Linked DNA regions of Homo sapiens: regions 2 and 3 are each linked to region 1. The links come from fine-mapping of genetic effects on gene expression. A gene starts in region 1. Each other region holds a variant in brackets. All regions are shown on one strand. Distances are between the middles of the regions.

Evidence for each region. PIP is the estimated chance that this variant, and not a neighbour inherited with it, causes the effect.
Region 2: its variant is fine-mapped to the expression of GALNT12 in whole blood (TOPMed, PIP above 0.99).
Region 3: its variant is fine-mapped to the expression of GALNT12 in whole blood (TOPMed, PIP above 0.99). The same link has a PIP of 0.9 or more in blood mononuclear cells.

Annotation. Positions count from the first base shown.
Region 1 is chr9:98,804,119-98,812,300 of GRCh38, reverse strand. It overlaps GALNT12 (polypeptide N-acetylgalactosaminyltransferase 12), which reads right to left and starts at 4,631. Exons shown (of 10, transcript NM_024642.5): 1 at 4,232-4,631. The coding sequence starts at 4,602. It overlaps LOC124902229 (a long non-coding RNA gene), which reads left to right and starts at 4,721. Exons shown (of 2, transcript XR_007061689.1): 1 at 4,721-5,530. RefSeq lists silencers at 4,490-4,559, 4,660-4,749.
Region 2 is chr9:98,751,328-98,759,509 of GRCh38, reverse strand. ANKS6 (ankyrin repeat and sterile alpha motif domain containing 6) reads left to right here. Exons shown (of 15, transcript NM_173551.5): 12 at 2,907-3,090. Among named protein-coding and RNA genes, the nearest start is that of ANKS6, 41 kb to the left of the region's middle. The variant T/C (reference allele first, on the strand shown) is at 3,522.
Region 3 is chr9:98,826,738-98,834,919 of GRCh38, reverse strand. It overlaps GALNT12 (polypeptide N-acetylgalactosaminyltransferase 12), which reads right to left. Exons shown (of 10, transcript NM_024642.5): 3 at 7,979-8,168; 4 at 2,963-3,148. Among named protein-coding and RNA genes, the nearest start is that of GALNT12, 23 kb to the right of the region's middle. The variant T/C (reference allele first, on the strand shown) is at 3,208.

The DNA.
Region 1 (8,182 bases):
TTTTTAATGACAACACAAAATCGAGCAACATACTATTCAAAGACACACCAAAAACATATGGACACAGAATGAGTGAAAGAAAAAGGTATCAGGAAAATACTAACCGAAATTGAACATGTTCTGTGGATTTGAAGTACTGGAGTACTGACTCAAGAAAGAATGCCACTCTGATGTTCTCAAGATGGATCTAATAAGAATTCATAAAATATCCACAACTTTGTTGGGGAAACAAAATAAACATCAGTCTAATGTCCTACTCCCTTCTGCAACCCTAGCAAGACATACTTTTGCTTAATTACCTGTTTAGAACCACTTTGAGGCTGGGCATGGTGGCTCACGCCTATAATCCCAGCACTTTGGGAGGCCAACACGGGCAGATCTCCTGAGGTCAGGAGTCTGAGACCAGCCTGGCCAACATAGTGAAACCCCGTGTCTACTAAAAATACAAAAATTAGCTGGGTGTGGTGGCGCTTGCCTATAATCCCAGCTACTCGGGAGGCTGAGGCAGGAGAATGGCTTGAACCCAGGAGGTGGAGGTTGCAGTGAGCCAAGATCGCACCATTGTACTCCAGCCTGGGCAACATAGCAAGACTCCATCTCAAAAAAAAAAAAAAAAAGAACGACTTCGAGACTCTTTGCCATCCCAGCACCCAAATCCTGACCCCTGAACTCAGACACACATCTGCAATTATAGTATTAACAAGCCTAAAACCAGAGCAAGTCAAGAAATAAAAACACCATGCTTTCCTTGACCAATGGTTCACAGTTCTTCTGCCCTGGTAGAGAATGGCTGGTGTTCACACATATGGGATTCCTGTCATAGATAGACCTGAAGAAATGTCCAGCCCTGAGGGCACTGTCTGTTACTCCACTCTCTCTTCTACTAAATATCAGAATGCAAATGAGAATGATGTTACAGTGATCATCTCAAGTTCCCCGTATTCTATGGAAACTAAAACTTTTTGCAAATTTTGGTACAACATTACTAATAACCATTTCCTTGTGACACACCACTCAGTTGACTATGATGTCATCACTGGCTTGAACTACATTTGACCTGTTATTAATCCTTACTTTCTCTAGTTCTGGTATTCTCCACACCCTCCAAAACACTCACCCTAAATCTTCTGACTCAGAAATCCACAGGCTCTAGGCCAGTAGCTTTCACCCGTGGTTGCATATCAGATTCAGCCTAGGTCCTAGCCACAGATATTCTGATTTCATTGTTTTGGGGAAGATTCCTGGCATCAATATATTTTTTAAAGTTCCCCAGGGCCACACACCCAACTATCTGTCTCCCCACTTTGACCCGCTATCATCTCAGAGTAAAAATTCACCTTCTTTGCTGAGATGCTAGTCATACTATACTACTATGCTTACTGACTTACTTACTATACTTATTTATATTAATATATATTAATACTTACTATGTTACCATGCAAGGAAGGATTCCTAGTCATCATTAGCCTCCTCTTCAATTCAGTGCTGTAACTAACAAAACTATACTCGAATCCACTGGCATGTAAATTATTAGATTCATAGAGGGGCCCAGGTCTATACTGGCTCTCACAGAATTAGGACCAGTACTCTAAAATGTCTTTTTAGTGGTCTGGCCTTCTTCAAGAAGGCAGACACAGTGCCACACCCTGCTGACACCAGGAAGAGTCAAACCAAGTGGTCCCTTAGTCATTCCCAACTCCTTTCCTCTGATAAAAGGCACTGCAGAGTAAAGACTTTCATTAAAAGTCTAGGAGGCACAGCAAAATGTTAACAATGGTTCTCCCTGAGTGGTAGGTTTATTGGGGATTTTCATTTTTTTCCTTTTCTGTTTCTCTGTGCATGCCAACATTTCTAGAGTGAATATGCATTGCTTTCATAATTAAAATAAACATAGAAATAATCATCCCCACCCAAAAAGGGAGGAACGAGTAACAGATATGGACTGTGGCTCTGCCTGAGATGTGCTATGTGACCTGGGGGTGTGGCTTTTCCTCTCTGGTTAGACTAGATGCTCCTCCCTCAGGGCCCTCCCTCCTGCAACATTCAAGGACCCTCATTATCCCTCTGTTTATTAGACTCGCAGAGAACCCCATACCCACACTGTGAACTTATGATCTGCCATTCAGGTTTCTCAGGCAAAATCTCAAGACCCTGATTAGCTCCTGGATGAACTGTAATAAAAGTGAGATGCCACAAAATACCCTGACCCTACTGACCACTCTGAAGTTACATCTCAAAGCCTGGCCCAACAGAGACCCACACAGCTCAGGCTCACCTTTCTCTCTGGCTGGGTAAGAATAACCCAACAGGCCTTGCTGCAGGAATTAGAAGCAGGAGGCATTCACACTCCTTATCATGCTGGGTTTGGCTTAACTTCCAGGGTCAATGCAACAGCAGGATCTACAAGCAAATCCTGAGAGGACACAGGGCAGCTGCGTCACCATGGAGACAGGTTACCATAAGCCCCACAGATTGTCCACAGTGTTTCAAAGAGATATTCACAACCTGCGACAATAAAGGAAGTTGGATCCAGGAAAGAAAAACTACAACCAATCCCTGGATGACTCTCAAAAGCAACCTCTTGAGTACATTCTTGGCAACAGGGAAAGGTGAAAAAACTAAGATTTAAGCACACAGTGTGCTCCCAGGTATTGATGCTTTATTAATTCCTAAGTTGTGTTCTTTCCACTCACTTTTATGTAGAATGCATGGAGACTCACTTTTATGAGTTTCCTATTTCGCAAACGAAGGGAAACCAAGGCTCTGAGAGGCTAAGCAGCTTGCCAGAGATCACAGAAGTGACGAGCAAAAGAACCAGGATTTTATCTCCCCTGGGCTGGATTTAATCTGAAGCTGGGTATAACCTGAAAGCTTCCCCTCCACCTTGCCTCAGCGGGCACCCTCGGGGTTTCGAGGAGCTAAACATGCGTTAGGCTGGTGAGTGGAGGAACTACTATCAATCCCAACAAAGTTTTATTCAAAAAGACTAACAGTGAAAAATGCCTCAGGCAGAAGCATGAGGCTAGGCATGAGGAGATCCCCAAAACAGGGAAGACAGTGGAAACAGTGGGGCAGAGGTGGGGCATCCTCATTCCATCATTCATGGTCTCTCTGGCCAAGGTACCATGGAGCAGGCCCCTAAAATCCTGAGATCAGCATGGTGCCAAGTGGGCCAGAAGGGCCATAGTCCCTCCAGACCAGTCCTACCACATTCCAGCTGAGGGGCCTTGGGTGGGTCACCTATCCTTTCCGAACCTATTTCCACACCTGTAAAGCAGGAATGGCTTGAAGGGGAGAGGAGTGGCAGGTGCCTGGTGCACACGGCAGGCTGCCACCACCAGCTCCAATGGGAACCCCCTCTCTGAGTCCTCTTTTCCTCAAAGTCTGTAAGGAAGGGGCTCAAAAAAGGACTTGGAAGATCCCTGACACTTCGAAGAAAAAGTGAGAGCCCGGGAGGCCCAGCGGCAAAGGTGGCAGCAGCCACCTGTCCTTCCTCCTGCTGCCAGCGTGTGCCCTGGATCCCCACCTAGGCAGGGGCGCAACCTGCCCAGCCAGTAGCTCCAACAGGAACTAGGCCTCTGACCACGCTGGCTCCAGTCCAGCACCACCCACAGGAGTGAGCTGGGGTGGATCACGGCCAGAAGGAGCCCTTCCCACCCCGTGCCCCTTCCCGCCTTCCTCCACCCAAAGCTCAGAAATCCAATGCCCAGGGAGAGCACAAGGAGGCTTTCTAGCGCTGAGGGGGCCTTACAGCCATCTTTCGCTTCACCTGTGGGGCGCTCCCTCGCATCTTGTTTGTCCCTTAGGCCCTGGCACACACAGAGAATGAATGGAGCCGGTCACCGCCCGGAGGAGTTGTCAGTTTCGCGGAGGCACTGCGAGGCGGGCAGAGCGGGGTTGTCCTTTGGGTGCTGGGGGGTCCTCGCCTTAAACCCTTCTGCTTAGCCCTGACCCTCACCTTTTCAGGGAGATGATAACTTCTCAAGGAGAAGGGAGCTAAGAGATCACTAACAGACTTGCCAATTTCTGGTAATTTTTTTTCTACTTTCGTCTTTTTTACTTTCTTGCCTCCCCGCCCCCATGTGAGCTCTTACACTATCGTCTTCGGAGAAAGACTCAATAAGACGCGCCATCCTGGAGACCCCAGCTCCCCGCCCTGCCACTGCTCTGATGGAGAAACTGAGGCCCGGGGCTCTGAGGGCGGGCTTCCTCCCCAGAGCTGTGCACTCACAGCGGGTTCCAGCGCTCGGGCAGGCGGCGGTGCAGTGAGATGCGGTCGCTGAGGTAGATGTTAATCTGGTGCAGCCGCACGCTCTCCTCCTGCAGCCGCAGCTCCTCGCCCTGCAGCTGCAGCCGCACCGCCTCGCCCCGCGCGCCCAGCGCGTTCGCCGGCACCGGCGGCCGCGGCATGACCGGCTCGCGCCGCCCGGGGCGCGGGGTGCGCGGGGGTCCCGGCTCGGCAGCCCCGGCCCCGGCCCCACGCTGCGCCCGCAGCACCGAGCCCAGCCCGGCCAACGCCAGTAGCGCCAGGAGCACCAACAGCGCCTCCCGGCCGCGCCGCAGTTCCCGCGGGCAGCGCCGCCGCGCCGTGCGCCCCCACATGCGCCCGCCAACTGCAGCCAGCGATCTGCGCGCCCCAAGGCGGCGGTGGAGGCCAGGACCCGGATCCCGGAACCGCCGTGCCGCCCCGCCCCCGGCCCGCCCCACCTGCGCGCCGCCCCCTTTCCGTCCAGCCCCGCGCCAGCCCAAGCGCAGCCCCCGGGGTGGCTCATTTCGGCAGGGTCTTCAAGTGGGCTGGCTGAGACTTGCATCTTCCTTCTTGGGCTATGGTGCATTATTAAAGAGATAGTGGTGGTAAAACCCTTAGCGCCTGGCATATTGTAGGCGCTAAGTGTTGGCTGAATACACCCTGCAGGGTGTTATGAATTCTACTGCCATTATCTCATCTGATCTTTACACAGTCCAATAAAACAACCATCAACTAGGATTACGAGCTCCCTTTTACAGATGAGGAGATGGAGGTGCGATGAGATCAACAGACACCACGCTGCCCCACTGACTTCTGCAGGCCCAGCCTCTGCCATACTCTTTGGAGTCCTTGAATAGCAAACCCTCGCCTGGCTCGCCTCGTGATAGCTCTGTGACCTCTGAGGCTAGGAGCAAAAGGCCATGAAGGCTGTACATGATAGTTCACACCTGTAATCCCAGGCCGAGATAGGAGGATCACTTGAAGCCAGGAGCTTAAAACGAGACTGGTCAACATAGCAAGACTCCCATCTCTACAGAAAAATTTCAGAATTAGCCATGCATGGTGGCACGTGCCTATAGTGCCAGCTACTCAGGATGCTGAAGCAGGAGGATTGTGTGAGCCCAGGAATTGGAGGTTACCGTGAACTATGCGCCACTGCGCTGCAGCCTGGATGACAAAGCGAGATCCTGTTTCTATTAAACAACAACCAAAAAAGGCCATGAAGCTGCCGCCCTGTTCATGAGATCACTGCTGTGGGAGCCTTGAGCTGCCAGGGACGAAGTAAGTCTAATGGAGTAGACAAATATTAAAAAGATAATTAGAATTGTGTTAAGTATTTTGAAGAAGAATTACAGGGCGCTAAAAGGGCTTAGAATAGTAGAACTTGATCTAGTTTGGGGGTTTTGGAAAGCTTCTCTGATGAAGTAATGTCTACACAGATATCTGAATGTAAAAGTGATAGCAGAGATTTCAAATCATATCTTAAATTAATCTGGAACTCCCTCTGCTGGTGTCTAGCTCAGGGAAAAGAATCATTCTGTATCCCCTGTAGAAGGATAGAGTGTAAGCTCTATTTGTTGTTGTTTGTTTTACCATGGGAAGTTGGTCCAAAGCTTTTTATCAAATATTCTCAAGGAGACCAGAAGCCCAGAAAGTTTAAAAAGCACAAATCTGGTCCAATTATCTCATTGATAAATGCGGGGTCTGAGACACAGGGTGGGGAGAGGACCTTGAACTTGGCGGCTCAGGTAGAGGTAGAATCTGACTTGCTGTTGTCTTCATACAGCCTTTGGCTACTGGTATCCCCAGAGGAAATCTCCCTCAGGTTGCAGGAGGGGGGTGGGTTTTGGGATGAACCATGCAAAGCAGCTCCCACTCAGGACAACCTGCTGCTAATATTAGACTAGAGGGAAGTGGCTCTTCCCACAGTGCTCAGGGCCCCGCCTGCTTCCCACGCAGAATGGAGGCTGCTGGTTAATGCCAGAAGGCGGTTGTGTTAGGTAGGTCTGGACCTGAGCCCTTTGGCCTCTGTTCAGACACCCAACACATTTAAGATCTGCGGTCAGATTAGAAAACAGACAAGGATTACAATTCATAATGTCTTGGATCCGCTTGCCAAATTGGAATGCTTCTCAATAGAGGTTCAGATACAGAGAAAAGAGAAATGCAATTAGGCCTTACAAGACATGGACTTAAGCCCCAGGTAACAGATAAAAGCTATTGTTTACTGAGCACACACTGTGTGCTGTAAACTGCTGGACTTTCTTTTTCATGTACTTTCTCATTTCACCCTATGACAACCTTGCAAGGTTGACAGATGAGAATATGTAGGCTCAAGAAGTGAAGCAACTTGCCCAAGGTTACACAACATGCAAGCGGTAGAGGGAGGATTTGTATCTGGGTCTCCTGACTCACAGTCCAGGATTTCCCACCACACCACTCACTGTTGGGCAGGCTGCAATGAGATGCAAAGGCAGCTTAGCTTAGGAGGTCGGAACACAACCTTGGAGCCCACTTGCCTGAGCTCAACCCAGCCCCATCACGAATTGCAGTGTGACCTCAGGCAAGTTGCTTTACTTATCTCGGCTCAATTTGCTCATCTATTAAATGGTGATCTAATGATAGCACCACCTGAACAGGGTTGTTGAGAAGATTGAGTGATACAGTCTGCACAGTCAGCCTCCCGGGGCACAAAACAGAGTGGAGAGAGTGTCAGTAAGGCAAAGGGAAGATGTCCAGCACCTTGCTGAGTGAAGTATGATATTTAGACCAGAAGCATTGGTACCACCTGGGAGCTTGTTGGAAATCTAGCATCTTTTCAACAGAGGTAAAGCCCTTGGGTTTATTGCTATTTTTAGGGGGCTTATCTGTTCACTAACAGTACCATGTTATGTCATCGGCTGCTCACCAACAAGTAGATATCTCTAGAAGATGCTTTTAATTTGTCATATTAGCTCTCTTCATAGGAGTTATTACATTCCTTTTAGAGTTTAATATGATCTATGGTAGATGTGGTATTTCAAATATTAGTGGGGAACATGTGCCTAATTCAAGTAATAATTGGGACAACTTGATAACCATTTGGAAAAAATTCAAATCAAGTCCCAACATCACACTTTACATCAAAATAAATTCCAAATGATCTGAAGATGCCACAGTAAATAAGCAAAAAAAGGAAGGAAGGAAGGAAGGGAAGGGAAGGAATTTAATTATAAAAGTATTGAATGAGAAAAACCAGAGACCATATGGAAAATATTTCTAAATGTGACTATATAAAAATTTTGAATTCTGTAAGGCTTCCAGTATAATACAAAGTCCAGAAACAAAAGGCAAGTCAGAAAGAGATATTTGCAGATGACATTTACCCAGTATGTGAATCAATAGGGAAATAAAGAGAACAAACAGAAATAAAAATGGTCAAAGGATTTAAATAGACAGTTCCCACCCAAAAGGATATAAATAGTTTATAAAAGTATGAAAATATGCTCGATCTCTCTAAAATACATACAAAATAAACCTACCCTGAAATATTTTTTCACCTATCAGACTGGCAAAAATGAAAATGGCTATTAATTCCAGTGTTGGCAAGGATGTGAAAAAACACTCTCATCCACTGTTGGTAGGAATGCAAACTAGTATAACCTTTTGGAAAGCAATTAGGCAACATTTATTAGAAATGTTAATATTAACATCTTTTTGATTTTGCAATTCCACATCTAGGAATCTATCCAACAAACATAGACTCGTAAGTGCTCAAAAGATATGCATACAAGGAAGCTTATGGCAGTATTGTATATAAAAGCAAAAAGTTGGAAACAATCCAAATTTCCATCAAGAGATTATAAAATAAAATATTGCACATCCGTACAATACCATAATATACCACAGTGCTATTTGCAAGCATGAGTTAGTTGTAGGCATTTAACATACACA
Region 2 (8,182 bases), 53 kb after region 1:
TTCAGTTGGCATCTGAAGTGGGGGCAGTCTCCTGGGACTGAGCCCTCAACCTGTGGGATTTGATGCTGTGTTTGGATAGATCATGTCAGACTTGAATTGGAGGATACTTAGCTGGTGTCCACTGCAGAACTGATTAATTGATTGGTGTGTAGGGGAAGAAAGCTCCATACCTTTGGTTACAGACACATTCTGTGTTGATTGTTGTGGGGTAAGAATAGAGGAAAAATAGTTTATTTTTTTGTCTCTAGTCACAGGATGGAACATAGAGCGCTGTTTTTATGGCTTGGGATTAGGAGGAGGGATTAGCTAGAAAAGGACCACTTAAGGACATTCAGAGGATGATGGAACTCTTCTGTATGGTACCCTCTTGGTGGATACATAACACTATGTGTTTTTCAGATCCCATGGAATTGTGTACAACAGAGCTATTTTTTACTGTATGCAAATTAAAAAAAACAAAATCAACCAGGAACCAAAGATAGAATGCAAACTATGACAGAAGATCTAAGTGTATTCAAATGAATGACCTAACCACATTGTAGGAGGTGGAGGAGAAAATCGTATGTTGAGTGGATATTAGGCTAAAGACAAAAAGTACTGTATACAAGTACTGTACTCTAGTTGATATTTTTTTTCTTACCAGGATATGGGCTAACAATTCTGTTATCCTTACCAGGATATGGGCTAAAAATTTTTTTGTGTACATGTACACTTAACATATATACCAGGATTGAATAAATAAGTAGCAAAGTTTTTACTGTCAGAGACAGAATCAAAGGAAAAATGCTAGAACAAACTCTGTGGATGTTGGGTTGAAGTCAGAGGTATCGGTATGAATCAGTATGAGTGCATGCTTTTAAATACACAGAGAGTTGCACACACACAGAGTTAGTAGATATAAAAGTAGATATGGCTATGTGTGTATACATCGGTTAGTGTATATATGTCTTTGCTCTGTCCACTTTGAGGACCTAGAAGCAGTGACATCCCAGTACCAGTGAGCAACCTAGTACCCAGATTTTGGTTTCTAAATACCATTCTCTAATAAAAGGGACCTTGGAAAGCTTTGGAGAAGTGTTTTATTCTAGTACTGGGTCAGCAGAAACATAAGATGAGCTTAGAATATTTTGTGGTGTCAGAAAGTAGGCAAATACTTTTAAAAAGAAAGACAAAAAAAAAAAAAAAGAAAGATGGCGCATGTCAAAAGGGTACAGGAGCCAACCCGAAAGATCTCACAATGGCCAAAGCTGTAATAATGAGCTACAAAATAACAGTAATATTGGATTATGGCCCAGAGCTTAAAAAATACCCATGAGCCTGTACTGATAGGAATAAATGATTGAGCAAATAAATAGGAGAGAAAGAACAACTCTTCCTTATAGAAGTATTACAGATAATAAATGTGGAAGGAAGGAGGGCAATAGAAAATCACCATGGGAACACCACTGTAACACTTGCCTCAGTGAGACTCACCAATGAATGCAAAGTTAATGGGCAGAACCTTAATAAATATTTACCCAAAAACTTCTCCCAAAGGATATTTTATTTTGTATATTTATTTATTTATTTATTTATTTATTTTGAGACAGAGTCTCGCTTTGTCACCCAGGCTGGAGTGCAGTGGTGCGATCTCGGCTCACTGCAACCTCTGCCTCCCGGGTTCAAGTGATTCTCCTGCCTCAGCCTCCCAAGTAGCTAGGACTACAGGCACCCACCACCACACTTGGCTAATTTTTGTATTTTTTAGTAGAGATGGGGTTTCACCATATTGGCTAGGCTGCTCTTGAACTCTTGACCTTGTGATCCACCTGCCTCAGCCTCCCAAAGTGCTGGGATTACAGGCATGAGCCACCATGCCCAGCCCAAATAATATTAAAAAGAAAAATAGTGACTTTATAATGGAGAAACCCAGCAGACATCCCCTCATGTAAGTGATGAAGGTTACCATCACCAGTAATCAGATACTGTGTCCTCTCTGCATAACGATGCACTGAATGGGCATATCACTTCATTGCCCCCTACATTCACAAGCACATCTAATTATGGGAAAACTTAAGATAATCCCAAAATGATGTGCATTCTTCAAAATACCTGACCAAGATTTCCCAAGTGTCAGGGTCATGAAAGACAAGGAAAGACAGCGCTGTCACAGGTCAGAGGAGCCTACAGAGATACAGCACAGCTCCATGCAGTGTGGGTTCCTGGATCAGATCTTGGACCAGCATAAGGACATAAGCAAAACAGCCAGGGAAACAGAGTGAAGTCTGTAGTTTAGTTAATAGTGTTGTGTCAATGTCAGCTTGTTAGTTTTGATCATTATACTGTGACGATGTAGATATTAATATCAGGAAGCTGTGTGAGGGGTATGTGGGAACTCTGTTCTCTCTGTGCAGCTCTTCTATACGTCTAGAATTATTTTAATGTAAAAAGCCTTTGTTTTAAAGCTAACCAATGAGAAAAAGGGAAGAATACGTGTTCTTTGGTGTAGATGAAGGAGCATCAAGAGCAGAAAGAGACTTTGTGCCTCCCTAAGCCAGACTTTCATTTTACAGCTGGTTAACTGAGGCCCAGAGAGCTCGGGGGGCTTGGCCAAAGCCACAATGCAAGTAGCTGGAGGGCAGGACTGGGATTGGGGGAGCGGGGCGGGGTGGGGAGCGGGGTGGTTCCTGACTCATAATATGCAGCTATTTGATCTTATCCTATCTCTGCTCCAGGGTTGCATTTTCCTCTAATTGTTCTGATAATGATATTTCTGCTTTCCATGTTTTTAAAAGTAGATTTCATAGTCTTGGTTAAACATCATGTTGAATCAAATACCACCCATGTTCCCTGTTGTGGGTGTCTTGTTTTCCTCATTTCTACCCTACAGGTGATGGCTTATGTATTTGTCTTACTCTGTTCAGCAGAAATTGGAGACCAGCAAAAGGCCTCCATCTGGAACTTCCACTACCTCCAAGAGCACCTCTCCAACCCTCACGCCCTCCCCCTCACCCAAAGGGCACACTGCAGAGTCCTCAGTGTCTTCCTCGTCATCCCATCGGCAGTCCAAGAGCAGTGGGGGCTCCAGCAGTGGCACCATCACAGATGAGGGTGAGTCCCCTGAGGGCCTGAAACCCCACCTATTCCTCTCACCATGATGACCTGGCAGCAAGGAACTGCAAGGTGACCTTAATTGCTATAACCATCCTAGGTCAGGTTTTAAGAAGATTTACGACAAACATGTCCCTCCTCTTCTCTGATTGTACCTTGTATTTTTGTCTTCACTATGCTAAAGGTATGGTAAGCTCCCTCAAAGAGTTTTTGAGTATAGGTGATTTTTGTTTACATGCACAAACATACACCCATGGAAGTGCTTCTCCAACACGAACTTACTTTCCCTGGACCCTGTACCTGTCAGGATTCTTTCAGTTGTGAGTGAGAGAAACTCCACTCACACTGGTTCAAGGGAAAAAAATGAAACCTGACATTTCATTGGCTCATATGATGGGAGTGTCTAGGGTGTGCTTCAACCATGCCTGAAT[T/C]CAGGTGCTTTGGGAGTGTTTCCAGGTCTCAGGTAGGTTCTCTCCAAGTGGTGGCAAGCAGCTTCAGGCATACTTTTGTCTTCCCACCAATTTTTCAACTCCAGCAGAACGAGTGCTACTTTCTCAGTAGGTCCAGCAAAATCCCAAGTGTAAAGGCCATTGGCTTGGCTGTATTTATAATGACCTAGGTCAGTTGCCCTCCCTTGACTATCTCTGTGTCCACAGGGGTGGAATGTGGTGATTGGCCATGCCCCTTCGGTCAGTTGTCTGCTTTGGAGCGGAGTTGGGGTCCAACCTACTGACATATGTGTATTGGAAGTGGGAGAGAAATAGTTCCTCAAAGGAAAATTTGGAAATACTGTTTCCAGGAGAAGGGGGATGGGTGAGGGCAAGCAAAAGCAGTTGATGTCTGCTGCAACCAGGAGAGCCTTGGAACCTGCCTTGTGAATTACAGCCTCTGCAGCCCCCATGCGGGAATGATGAGGGAAGATGGAGTGGGTGGTAGGGCAGGAGCAGAGGCTTTGCAGTCAGGCCCCAGGAAAGATAAAGGCAGATGAAGAAAGGAATCCCATCCTTTTAAACTGCCCTCTAGAGGCCTGTAGGAGCTGGGATGGGGGAAAGAGGGAGGAAGCTTTGGTGAGACCTGGGGTCCAGGCAGGTGCAAATCGAGGAGTATAAGTCAGCAGGGAGGAAAATCTGATTGTGTTCGTGGCCCTCACAAATGCGTTTGCGGGCAGTTCGCTGCAGCTGCTGAGGAGTAGGGTGCTGAGCAGGTTCTGCTGAGCAAGATAAGTTGGAATCACTTGCACAGGCTCTAGTCTGTACTAAGTTGATAAATGCATGCTGCCACTGGTGTCCTCCTTATTTGGGGGCTGCTTTTATTGTTTTGTGATATCCAGTGTGATCATTTATCAAGGCCTCAGAGATTCACCAGCAAACTCATTCCTCCCCAACCATATTTTCTATGTGGAGTCTTGAGTTCCACACTCGTGAATTCTCCCACCTCTGAGGTTTTCAGGAATTGAAGCCCCTAGAGATTCAGTTAGGTATTTGTGCCCCATTGTTTTCCAAAAAAGAGTGGAGACAGTGGATGTCTGTATGGACTGTTTGTACCCACTCTCTTTCCCTCTTGTTCATTATTAAAAATGGTTTGCAGAGTCCTAATTGGGATGAAAAAAGAAGAGGGCCAATAGCACTTTCTTTGTAGAATAATTTCTCTGGTTCATAAAGCTTAGTTTTCCTGTTGAGAGTTCCTGGGTCCTGAGGCAGCGAGCCCTTTGTCCTGTGGGTATATGATTGTTATAGGCCGGGGGCTGCAATCCATCCCCGAAGAGCTTTTTTTTTTTTGAGACGGAGGCTTGCTCTGTCACCCATGCTGGAGTGCAGTGGCGCGATCTCGGCTCACTGCAAGCTCCTCCTCCCGGGTTCACACCATTCTCCTGCCTCAGCCTGCCAAGTAGCTGGGACCTCAGGTGCCCGCCACCACGCCTGGCTAATTATTTTGTATTATTAGTAGAGACGGGGTTTCACCGTGTTAGCCAGGATGGTCTCGATCTCCTGACCTCGTGATCCGCCCGCCTCGGCCTCCCAAAGTGCTTGGATTACAGGTGTGAGCCACCACGCCCGGCCCCCAAAGAGCTATTTTTATTATATTCTTCTGGGAAATATTTGGTCCCAGTCAAGGACACGTGAGCTTTTCCCTGCCTCATGTCTCCATCTGCATTCCTCCTCTCTGGACTCCACCTGTTGAAGCAGCAAGGCTGGTGACAGCATCACCTTCTCAGCCTCACATTTGTTCCAGGAAATTTTCTTGGGCAGTCCCCTGGATGCCCTAACCTATGCACCCAGGGGAACTCACAGGGATACAGACACATTCAACATAATGACATTAGAGTGTAACACAAGGTGAGGTCATACCTGTTATCAGCAAAGCACCATGTGCCATGGTAGGCTCCCCTGGTGAGCGGGCACTCCAGCTGGACCACGACACTGGGAAGAGATGGGCAGTGGGGTGCCAGAGCCGACTGTTCAGTTTATAGGACATGCCCAAGCTGGTTGTTAAACACAACCATTATTTACAAATTACATGAACTTCGAATTAACTGAATTATAGAAATATAACAGTATATTGTACTTAAAATGTATTTTTTACTCATTTTTGTATATTTTATTATCTGTGCTCTTGAGGTTGTGTATATCTCATACCTGCAGTGTGAATACCCCGTAATGATGTGTTCCTACTGCGCATCTCTGCTCAGCTTCACTTTCAGGGGCATTAGATTGGTAGGTTGAAATTGGCTATGATGGGGGTATTTACACCATGGAAATTGGCAAACACCATCAATCAGGGCTTGCTTTTTTTTTTTTTGAGATAGGGTCTTACTCTGTCACCCAGGCTGGGGTACAGTGGTGTGATCACAGCTCACTGCAGCCTCAACCTCCCTGGTCTCAAGCAATCCGGGGCTTGATTTGTTGTCTTATAGATATTGTCTACATGTAATCTAGGCAGTGATGGGAAAATGTTAACAATGAGGATTAAACTTAAAAGTAGGTTGTATCTGTAACCGTTATCTTGTGAGTAGCACAAAAAATTGAGAAAATACTCTTCCAGTATTTGAAAACCATTATCTGATTCAGCCAAGTTGCTCACCTGAAGTTCCAACGTAAGTCTTTGTTGTTTCTTTTTTATGTTTCTTGTTCATGTAAACAAAACTCTCAGCCAGTGTTCATGTTGGAACCATACTCCTTGGCTGTGGGTACAAGAGTAGGGCAAAAACAAATGAAAGCATTTGGTGAGAATCAATTGGCTATATGGAATTTATAAGAAAGAATATTGTATTTTTTATTATTTGTAAATTGTGTGCTATAAATCCTTTATATCAGTAAATCTGCAATAGATTTATGTGCCTATATACATGCATACACCTTCCCCCGAGAACCAGTTGTTAAACATTTACCAGCACACCACTGTGGACCAAGGCTGCATGTGTAGGGAACAGCAGGAGCAAAGGTTTGGTGTCATGAAATACAACAGATTATGTGTGGATTGGGATTTGATTTGTCTCATACATCCTCGCTCAGTAGCCTCTCTACTGTGAAGCTTTCCCTAGTACCTTGGGCTGGGTCAGCTGTTCTCTCTGTCCCCACATCCCCCTGTTGTTGCTCTTCACCATAGCATGCACCACCCATGAGAAAAGTGGAGAGTGGGCGCCTAGCACAGGCCTGGTAGCTAGACCACTGGGCTTGAGTCCCTGCTTTGCCACGGACTAGCAGGATGACCTCACCCAAGATGTGGTATCAAGCCTTTCTGTGCCTCAGTTTCTCATCTGTAAATGGGGACAGTAATAGGATCTACCTCATTGGTGTTGTAAAGAGCAAGTGGGTCATCCATGTACAGGCTGGCTGATAGCACTGTGTATTAGCTTTCATCCTCCTCATCCTATCCTCCCAGCCACACTGAGCTTCATGACAGGGACCTCTCCATCCTTGCTACCTAGTGTCCATTGGGCACAGTGGTAGTCACTGCTGGAAGGAAGGAAGGAAGGAAGGGAAAGAGGGAGGGAAGGAGGGAAGGAAGGTTGGTTGAATGAATGAGTTAAAAAAAGAAGGAACCTAAGCCTCCTAATCACTTCTTTAAGCTGCATGCACTGCCTCACAACCTTTACACCTGCTCTTCCCTGTCTGGATGCTGCCTAATGCTCTTACTCCAGATATCTGCATAGCTCACTCCTTCATTTACTGCTCATAGATCACCTTATAGGAGAGTCTTTCCGTGACCATCTTCTGTAAAACAGCGTTTGTAAAACTGGAAATGCTGTCATTTACCTTGATGCTGCTCTCTTCTTCCTTGCTGTCTTGCCTATCAGCCTTTGTTTGTTTGTTTGTTTGTTTGTTTGTGACAGGGTCTTGCTTTGTAGCCCAGGCTGGAGTGCAATGGTGTAGTGGCATAATTGCAGCTCACTGTGGCCTCAAACTCCTGGGCACAAGTGATCCTCTTGCTTCAGCCTCCCGAGTTGCTGGGACTACAGGCACACACATCACACCTCCTGGCTAATTACTTCTAAATTTTTTGTAGAGATGAAATCTCATTATAGTGCCAGGCCTGGTTTTGAACTTTTGGCCTCAAGTGATCCTTCATCCTTGGCCTCCCAAGATCCTGGGATTACAGGCATGCACGACCTGCCCGGCCTCTGTCAGCCTTCTTATTGTCTGTTTTGGTATCTATTGAGTCCCCAGTTCCTAGTTTGGCAAATCCCTATTGAATGTGTGAGTAAATATTTCTCCAAGCCCCTCAGGTGCTGGTTTTGTCTCCTTTTCTTTATTCTCCCTGTTCTGACACCCCAAATCATCTTCTTGTGCCCTTGTGGCTCTGCTGTTCCACATAGATGCCTTTTTCCTTCAGGAAGGCCACAGCCTCTGCACACTTGAGCCAAACCCTGGTTCTGGTCTGAAGCCCACCATCTTCTTTCTTAAGTTCTTCCTCACACTAGCTAAGGACTTGCTGGCATTGGCATTTACTGCAGGCATTGGCATTTATGGTGCTTTCTCACACAGAAGGCAGAGTTTTAGTTCTGGCAGCTGGAACTTCCAGAACTTGAGGGTCGCAGTCTGGAGGGAATCAGTCAGTCCTGGCCCAGACTCTCTGTGTCTTCACAGCCTGA
Region 3 (8,182 bases), 23 kb before region 1:
CAGGACAAAGGACAGTTAGCCAAGAAGAAGAAGGGAAATGGAATGGTTCTCCAGCATGAGCAAAGGCTTAAGGGTGGGAGAAATCCAGGGACATTTAGAAGCATAGAGAGCAAGGAGAAGAGAGAAGCAAGAGACCACGTTCCGAGAAGAAGGCAGGCTCCAGGCCATGGTCATCTGAGGAGGTGTGATCTCACAAGGCAGGCACTCACAGATGCCACTCAGAGGCCAGTATGCAGAAGGCCCTAAAGGCAACTCTGGCATCTGAAAGTGCCCCGAGGGCCAGGTCCTCTTGAGTGGTTTCCTCCACTAGGACCCAGCTAGCCAGCCTCAGGCTGCTTTTTCAGCCAGCCTTGTTTCCCGCCACCCACCACCAGGTTTATCTGGAAGCCAGCACTAACCAGAAACGGCCCACGGCTTCCAGCCTACACGGCAGAACACTGTAAGGTCAGCACGTCCCAGAGTTGCACAGGCAAAAGGATGAATTCAGAAATAGGGAAAGGGCTGGGCACGGTGGCTCATACCTGTAATCCCAGCACTTTGGGAGGCTGAGGCGGGCAGATCTCCTGAGGTCAGGAGTTCAAGACCAGCCTGGTTAATATGGCGAAAACCTGTCTCTACTAAAAAAATGCAAAAATTAGCTGGGTGTGGTGGCCCACAGCTATAATCCCAGCTACTCAGGAGGCTGAGGCAGGAGAATCACTTGAATCCAGGAGGCAGAGGTTGCAGAGAGCTGAGATCATGCCACTGCACTCCAGCCTGGGTGACAAAGCGAGACCCCAACTTGAAAAAAAAAATAGGGAAAGAGAACATTGAGAGCGCAACCACTGAAAATGTTAACATCCTGCAGCATCGGGGCCTGCCCTGGACTCCAAGCATGGGGCCAACTGAGAAGACAACAGCAACATCCCCAGTGGAAGGGAAGGTTCTAGACTACAAAGCACCTTCACGTGTGTTTATCCTAAAAATCTAGGAAATAAGCAGGGTGGATATGCTGGTACCTATTATACAGATGAGATAACTGAGGCACAGGGATATTATGGGATGGGGAGGATAGGTGCCCTGAGCATGTGGGGTAACGGGGCAATTAGAATTCATGGACCCCCATGAATTCATGACAGGCTGCCTAAGTAGCCTAGATTAGAGCCTCCTGCTCTGTGTCTCAGTTTCCAAACCTATTCAGTGAGGGATTGAGCAGGATGTTCTCACTAAGGGCTCCTACAGAAGCCTGGGTGCCATTCTTAATTCCTTCCTTCCCCAATTCCCACTCAATTTCTTCCAATTCTTCCATCTTAACATCTCTGGAATCCACAGTGCCCACCATCTCCTGAACCATTGTTTCTGACCTGGAAGACTGCAGAGCCTCCTAATGGTATCCCTGCCTACAACGGTCCCCCCAGGGCCCTCACCACATGGCACGCAGCACATGCTCAGGTCACTTCCTGCTCCGATCCCTTCAGTGGCTTCTACCTGCTCAGGGTCAAGTCCAAACCCCTTCCCTTGGCCCCGCCCATCTCTCCAGCCTTATCTCTGGACACTCTCCTTGCTTGCTCCACTCCTGCCAGCAGCGGGTCATCTTAAGGTCAGGACTCTGGTGAAAGAATTCAGAAGCCCAACTGCCAAATGTGGACGCAAAACTCAGAGCCTACTTCCGGTTCAACACACCAGCGGTGAGGCTGAAGTCCTGACCTCCTCCTGCCCAACTCCCACATCTGTCTCCCACTTGCTTCTGAACTTGGAAGGGGAGGAAGAAGCCAGGCTATCACTTCAAAACCTCCAGAATGAGAGCTGCTGAGCCTCCCTTGGGCCCATTCTACTCAGAGCTTGACTCACCCACTGGCCAGAGCAGACTCCTCCACCTGCCATGGATCCACCCACACCCCAGGTCAAAGGGGCCTAAAGATGTTTCCTCAAGAATGAGCATATGACCAGCAATCCCACTCCTAGGTGTATACCCAAAAGAATGGAAAACAGGGACTCAAGCAGATAAAAGTACACCGATGTTCATAGCAGCATTATTTAACAATAACCAAAGGACAACCCAAGTGTCCACCAACAGAAGAATGGATAAACAAAATGTAGCATATATGTACAAAGGAATATTACTCAGCCATCACAAGGAATGATGTTCTCTAGGAAACTTGAAAACATGATGATAAGTCAAAGAAGCCAAGTACAAAAGGACAAATATTGTATGATTCCACTCACATGGGGCGCCTGAAAGAACAGAGGTTCCCAGGGGCTGGGAAGGGGAGAATGGGAAGTTATTGCTTAGTGGGGATATTTTCTGTGTGGGATGATGAAAAATTCCTGGAAATAGGTAAAGATCATGTTTGCACAATACCGTGAATGTGCTCGATGCCACTAAAATTGCATGCTTTGTTTTATTTATTTATTTTTTTATAGAGACAGGGTGTCACTCTATCGCCCGGCTGCAGTACAATTGCGTGATCATAGCTCACTAAAGCCTTGAACTCCTTGACTCAAGCGATCCTCCTATCTCAGCCTTCCAGCTAGCTAGGCCTACAGATACACACTAGCATGCTCAGCTAATTTTTATTTTTTTGTAGAGATAGGTTCTTGCTATGTTGCCCAGGCTGGTCTCAAACTCCTGGACTCAAGCAATCCTCCCACCTTGGCTTCCCAAAGTACTGGGATTATAGGCATGAGCCACCATGCTCAGCCTAAAATTGCATACTTCAAAATGGTTAAAATGGTAAATTCTCTATGATGTATATTTTACCACAATTTAAAAATTAAATAAATAAAATATACCGATATAAAATTGACATGTGTAGCAGACACGTTTAATAAAAATAAACAAATACTCTGGGCAAAAAAGTGGGAAGAGGGGAGGTAGTTAAGCTGACAGCTAACCATTCCTCCCGAGGGCCTCCGCTCACAGGTCAGCCAGATTCAATGAGGCATGCTTAAAAAACAAGTCACCCAGAAGTCAGCTCCTGACCTGATGACATCGACGGGGGATTGCATCCGTATCCTCTCCCTCTCAGGAACTGTGTGCCACGTGAACACCAGCCTCCAGTCGAAACCGCCGATCTGGGGCTCCCCGGAGTTCCCCAGGTATTCGAAGGTGTTCCAGTCGATCACATCAATCACCGGGCACACCACTGCCGACTCCTCTTCATGGATCCTGAAAGCACCCAAGACATCCATCCGTCTCTCCTATGCAGACGGGCAGCAGGAAGACAA[T/C]TGGGAAATTCAAGGGTGAATTCTTGTCTTCCTTCCAATAAGAGGGAGGAACATCTGAGAAAGACCTGCTTCTCTTATTCCAGGTGTCTGCAGCCGTGTCAGAGCCCTGGCAGGTGACCACCATGGGGGAGATCTGGGGGCCACGGAGGGCTTTAAAACAAAAAGTCCCATGACTTTAATATGCTCTGATTCTATCCATGGACATTCTGACCAAACGCTCTATGATTTCAATTTCTCAGAAGTGCAAGAGGTTTAATCACAATGAAACACCTTAACATCAAGAAATACTTATCTCCTAAGAACAAAGGTGCACCCAGACCAAAGGGTCAGCTTTGGAATTAGAATATAAATTCTAATCCTGCTATTTATTTGTTGTGTGACATTAGCCAAGTCACCTAACTTCAGAGCCTATTGCCTCAGTGGTAACACTGGAATTATAATATCCATTCAGAGGGTTAATGTGAGGACTTCCTGGGAAAATGTTTTTAAGATAGCTGGCAGAGAACCTGAAACTATTGCTATTTTTTTATTTTAATGTTTGTTATTGTGAAATATTACATATAGTGAAAAATGCTATAATTTCCTTTTGCAGGTATCAGCCTGTGTGTTGGCTTCAACGGTTCTCTCCACATTATTACAAATCTGGCCATCCCTCAGCATGCTTCCAGGCCGTGTTTCTTTGCATTTGCCACTACACCAGGAAAGATGGACTGAGACTAGACCACGTGTGAACACTAGATTTCCTTGAGTACATTTTGGGGGACGTTGTCTGGAATTTGAGACCTAAAAATCCTAAGAGTCCTGCCACACAGGACAGTGCAACAGAGATCAACCAGACTTGAGCTTTCGGTGTCCTTAGAATGACACCAGAAAGTCAGAGGGGATATTAGAAATACCACTCTGGGGTAAGAATTACAACTATCGGGAAATTGCACTGTTCAGAACAGGTTGCGTGAGACAGGGTCTTAGATCTGTGAGTTCCCCAAATTGAGGAAGTTGCATACTAGGTATCCACCAACATCCGCTTATTTAAAGCAATTGAGGGCATTATTTAAAAGGTTGAAAGGGCCAACATCAGACCTGCTGGGCAAGTTCTAGCTGGCCCCTGGCAAAGGCCAGCTCCCCCAGGAACTGATGGCTTGTGATCAAGCTGGCTGGAACCACAGAAAGCCTAATTTTTACAAGGAGGGGAAAACTAGGGGAATGCTGTACCAGCATTGGAGTATAGGACTCCCAGTCGTGGCTGGAGAATGTGCAGGACCCACAGGGATGCTATTGGCATCTGGGCCAGAACCATTCTCCACTGAACAGGGCTGATCTGCAGGATACTTGGCCTCCCTGATACACAAAATGCCAGGAGCCCTACCTGGTTGACATGACAACCAAGAATACCCTCCCACATTTCCAAAAGCCCCTGGATGGAAAGGGTTACCACTCCTGTCTGGGGCCACCTTAGGGAGAGTCCACAGTCTGATGTGTCCCAATGCTCGTGCACACCAAAGTCCCCTGGGGAGCTTTTGAAACATGCAGAAGCCGAGGCCCCAGCCCCAAGAGTTAGATCCAAATGGGACCAGGCATTGGTGTGTTTAAAAAGCTCCCCAGGTTGAACCCTCACACACCGTTGGTGGGAATGTAAATTAGTACAACCTCTATGGAGAACAGTTTGAAGGTTCCTCAAAAAACTAAAAATAGAGCTACCATATGATCCTGCAATTCTACTCCTACGTACATATCCAAAAGAAAGGAAGTCAGTGTATCGAAAATATATCTGCACTCTCATGTTTGTTGCAGCACTATTCACAATAACCAAGATTGGGAAGCAACCGAAGTGTCCATCAACAGATGAATGGATAAAGGATATGTGGTACATATACTCACAATAGAGTACTATTCATCCGTAAAAAAGAATGAGATGCTGTCATTTGCAACAACATGGATGGAACTGGAGGTCATTACGTTAGGTGAAATAAGCAAGGCACAAAAAGACAAAGTTTGCATGTTTTCACTTATTTGTGGGAGCTAAAACTTAAAACAATTGAACTCATGGAGACAGAGAGCAGAAGGATGGTTACCAGAGACTGGGAAGGGTAGTTGGTTGGGGGAGTGGGGATGGTTAATGGGTACAAAAAAATAGAAAGAATGAATAAGACGTACCAGTTGCTAGCACAACAGAGTGACTATAGTAAAAAAAAAAAATAATTTAATTGTACATTTAAAAATAACTGGCTGGGCGTGGTGGTTCATGCCTGTAATCCCAGCACTTTGGAAGGCTGAGACGGGCAAATCACTTGAGGTCAGGAGTTTTACACCAGCCTGGCCAACATGGTGAAACCCCATCTCTACTAAAAATGCAAAAATTAGCCTGGCATGGTAGTGCATGCCTGTAATCCCAGCTACTCAGGAGGCTGAGCCAGGAGAATCACTTGAACCTGGGAGGCAGAGGCTGCAGTGAGCCGAGATCACCCTACTGTACTCTAGCCTGGGCAACAGAGCGAGACTCTGTCTCAGATAGATAGATAGATAGATAGATAGATAGATAGATAGATAGATAGATAGATAAAAAAAATTACTAAGAGTATGACTGGGCCAGGTGCAGTGGCTCACGCCTGTAATCCCAGCACTTTGGGAGGCTGAGGTGGGTGGATCACTGAGGTTAGGAGTTCGAGACCAGCCTGGCCAACATCGTGAAACTCTGTCCCTACTAAAAATACAAAAACTAGCCAGGTGCGGTGGCACGCACCTGTAGTCCCAGCTACTCAGGAAGCTGAGGCAGGAGAATCACTTGAACTTGGGAGGCGGAGGTTGCAGTGAGCCAAGATCACGCCACTGCCCTCCAGCCTGGGTGACAGAGTGAGACTCTGTCTAAAAAAAAAAGAAAAAAAGAGTATGAGTGGATTATTAGTAACACAAAGATAAATGCTTGAAGGGATGGATATCCCATTTCCTCTGATGTGATTATTATGCATTGCATGCCTGTATCAAAATATCTCATGTACCCCATAAATATATACACCTACTATTTACCCACAACAATTAAAAATTAAAATATAAATTTTTTAAAGTTTCCCAGGTATTTCTAACAGACAACCGAGGTGGAAAATCCCCTCTTCCACAGGCATGCAGCAAGGAGGCGGCTGGCCCATGTCCAAAGGGTGGGATGAAGAGGAATTCTAAAAGCATTAATCCATCAGCTGCAGAGAAAGAAATGTCCTCTCCCCATGATTTCAGACCTGTGTAGAGGTGGCCATCTATGAGTGCAGTGGGGGAACGAAGGAAGGGGAGCCCATTGGTCTGGGTTCCAGAGGGAGCACTCGGCCATAACTGTGCTCTAATCTCCAGCTCCATCACAGGCCAGAGGAGCCTCGAATCTGCTGCTAGGAAAGCTCATCAGAGCTGAGGAGGAGAAAGAGACAGCTATAGAACCTGCAGCTGACAAGAAGCCAGGACAGTAGGAAGTGGCAGGGCAGGGGGCAGCTGGGTCACACCCAGGAAGGAAGGCAAGTGGGTCCCCAGCTCTTTCAGACAACCCTAACAACCATGGAGTTGGCATCTGCGGGGAAGCAGTTCCCCAGCTGCAGAGACCCTGCCCCTCCAGCCCTTTGCCTGCTCCACAGCGGGGAGGCCAAGCAAAGATCCCTTCCTTCCTCTCCCACCTGGGGAGCTTCTGGTTGGCAAGCCCAGCTCCTGACTTCTATGATGCAGAAACAGAAAGGGCAGAGAGACGAGGCAGAGCATGGGGAGGAAAGAGACAGAAGGGAACAAAAAGTGGGCCCCAGTAGATGGTGGCTTCTTGAGGGGGGAAGGTAGGAGGGTGAGAGTGAGATGCCGTGGAACAGCAAGGACAATGGCCTTGAGAACAGGGTTACATTATGACTTTCAGGGACCCTTCCTCTATAACAACCAGACATATTAAAAAGCATATTTTATGACTATACTGGTATAAAGACAAATACAATCCATGCTAGATTCATTATTACATACCCATTATTATGATATTCATTTTTCCCTTCTGATTTTAAAAGAAATTCATAACATTTATCTGGGTTCCTTCCAGTTTCATGGGCCCTAGGCATTGTTCCTCCTGGGTGTAAGGGTTAAGTCAGCCCTGCTTGAAAGAAATACATCAAAATGTGTATTCTTTAGGAGTGCCATTCTATTTGACTGAGGATTTTTTAAAATGTTCTTGGTTGATGATACTTCCTCGGTTTTCTGCAACAAGCCCGGATAAAAAGGAATAATAAGGCCGGTGTGGTGGCTCACGCCTGACGTCAGGAGTTTGAGGTCAGGAGTTTGAGACCAGCCTGACCAAAGCAGTGAAACCCCATCTCTACAAAAAAATATAAAATTAGCCAGGTGTGGTGGTGCATGCCTGTAATCCCAGCTACTCCGGAGGCTGAGGAGGAGTGAGGAGGAGAATCGCTTGATCCCGGGAGGCAGAGGGTGCGGTGAGCCGAGATCACACCATTACACTCCAGCCTGGGCAACAAGAGTGAAACTCTGTCTCAAAAAATAAAAAGAAAAAAGAAGGAATAATAAAAGCAAACAGTGACACAGGGCCTTCTCCAGCTGGCACTCCCAGGCACTTGCCATGCACTAAATCATTTAACGGTCTCAACAGCCGAACTAAGCAGGGACTGCTCTCCTGCCCAGTGACAGAGAAGCAGCTGAGCCCAGGCAACCCGTTAACCCTCAAGTGACGTGATGAGTCTGTTCCTCATGCTACCTACTCCAGGTAACATGCTGTCTCTCCCATGGTGGGCGGCTCACGTACCTCTGCAGCAGCGGCTCCAGCCACCCTTCGTGGCACTCACAGTGACAGTCCAGGAAGGTCAGAACATCGCCCCTCGCCGCAGACGCCCCCAGCAGCCGGGCTCGCACCAGGCCCTCTCTCTTGTTGGCGCGGATCAGGCGCACCTTGGGCAGTCCCGAAAGCTCATTGGCCAAGCGCTCCTTCAGGTGCTCTAGGGAGGCAAAC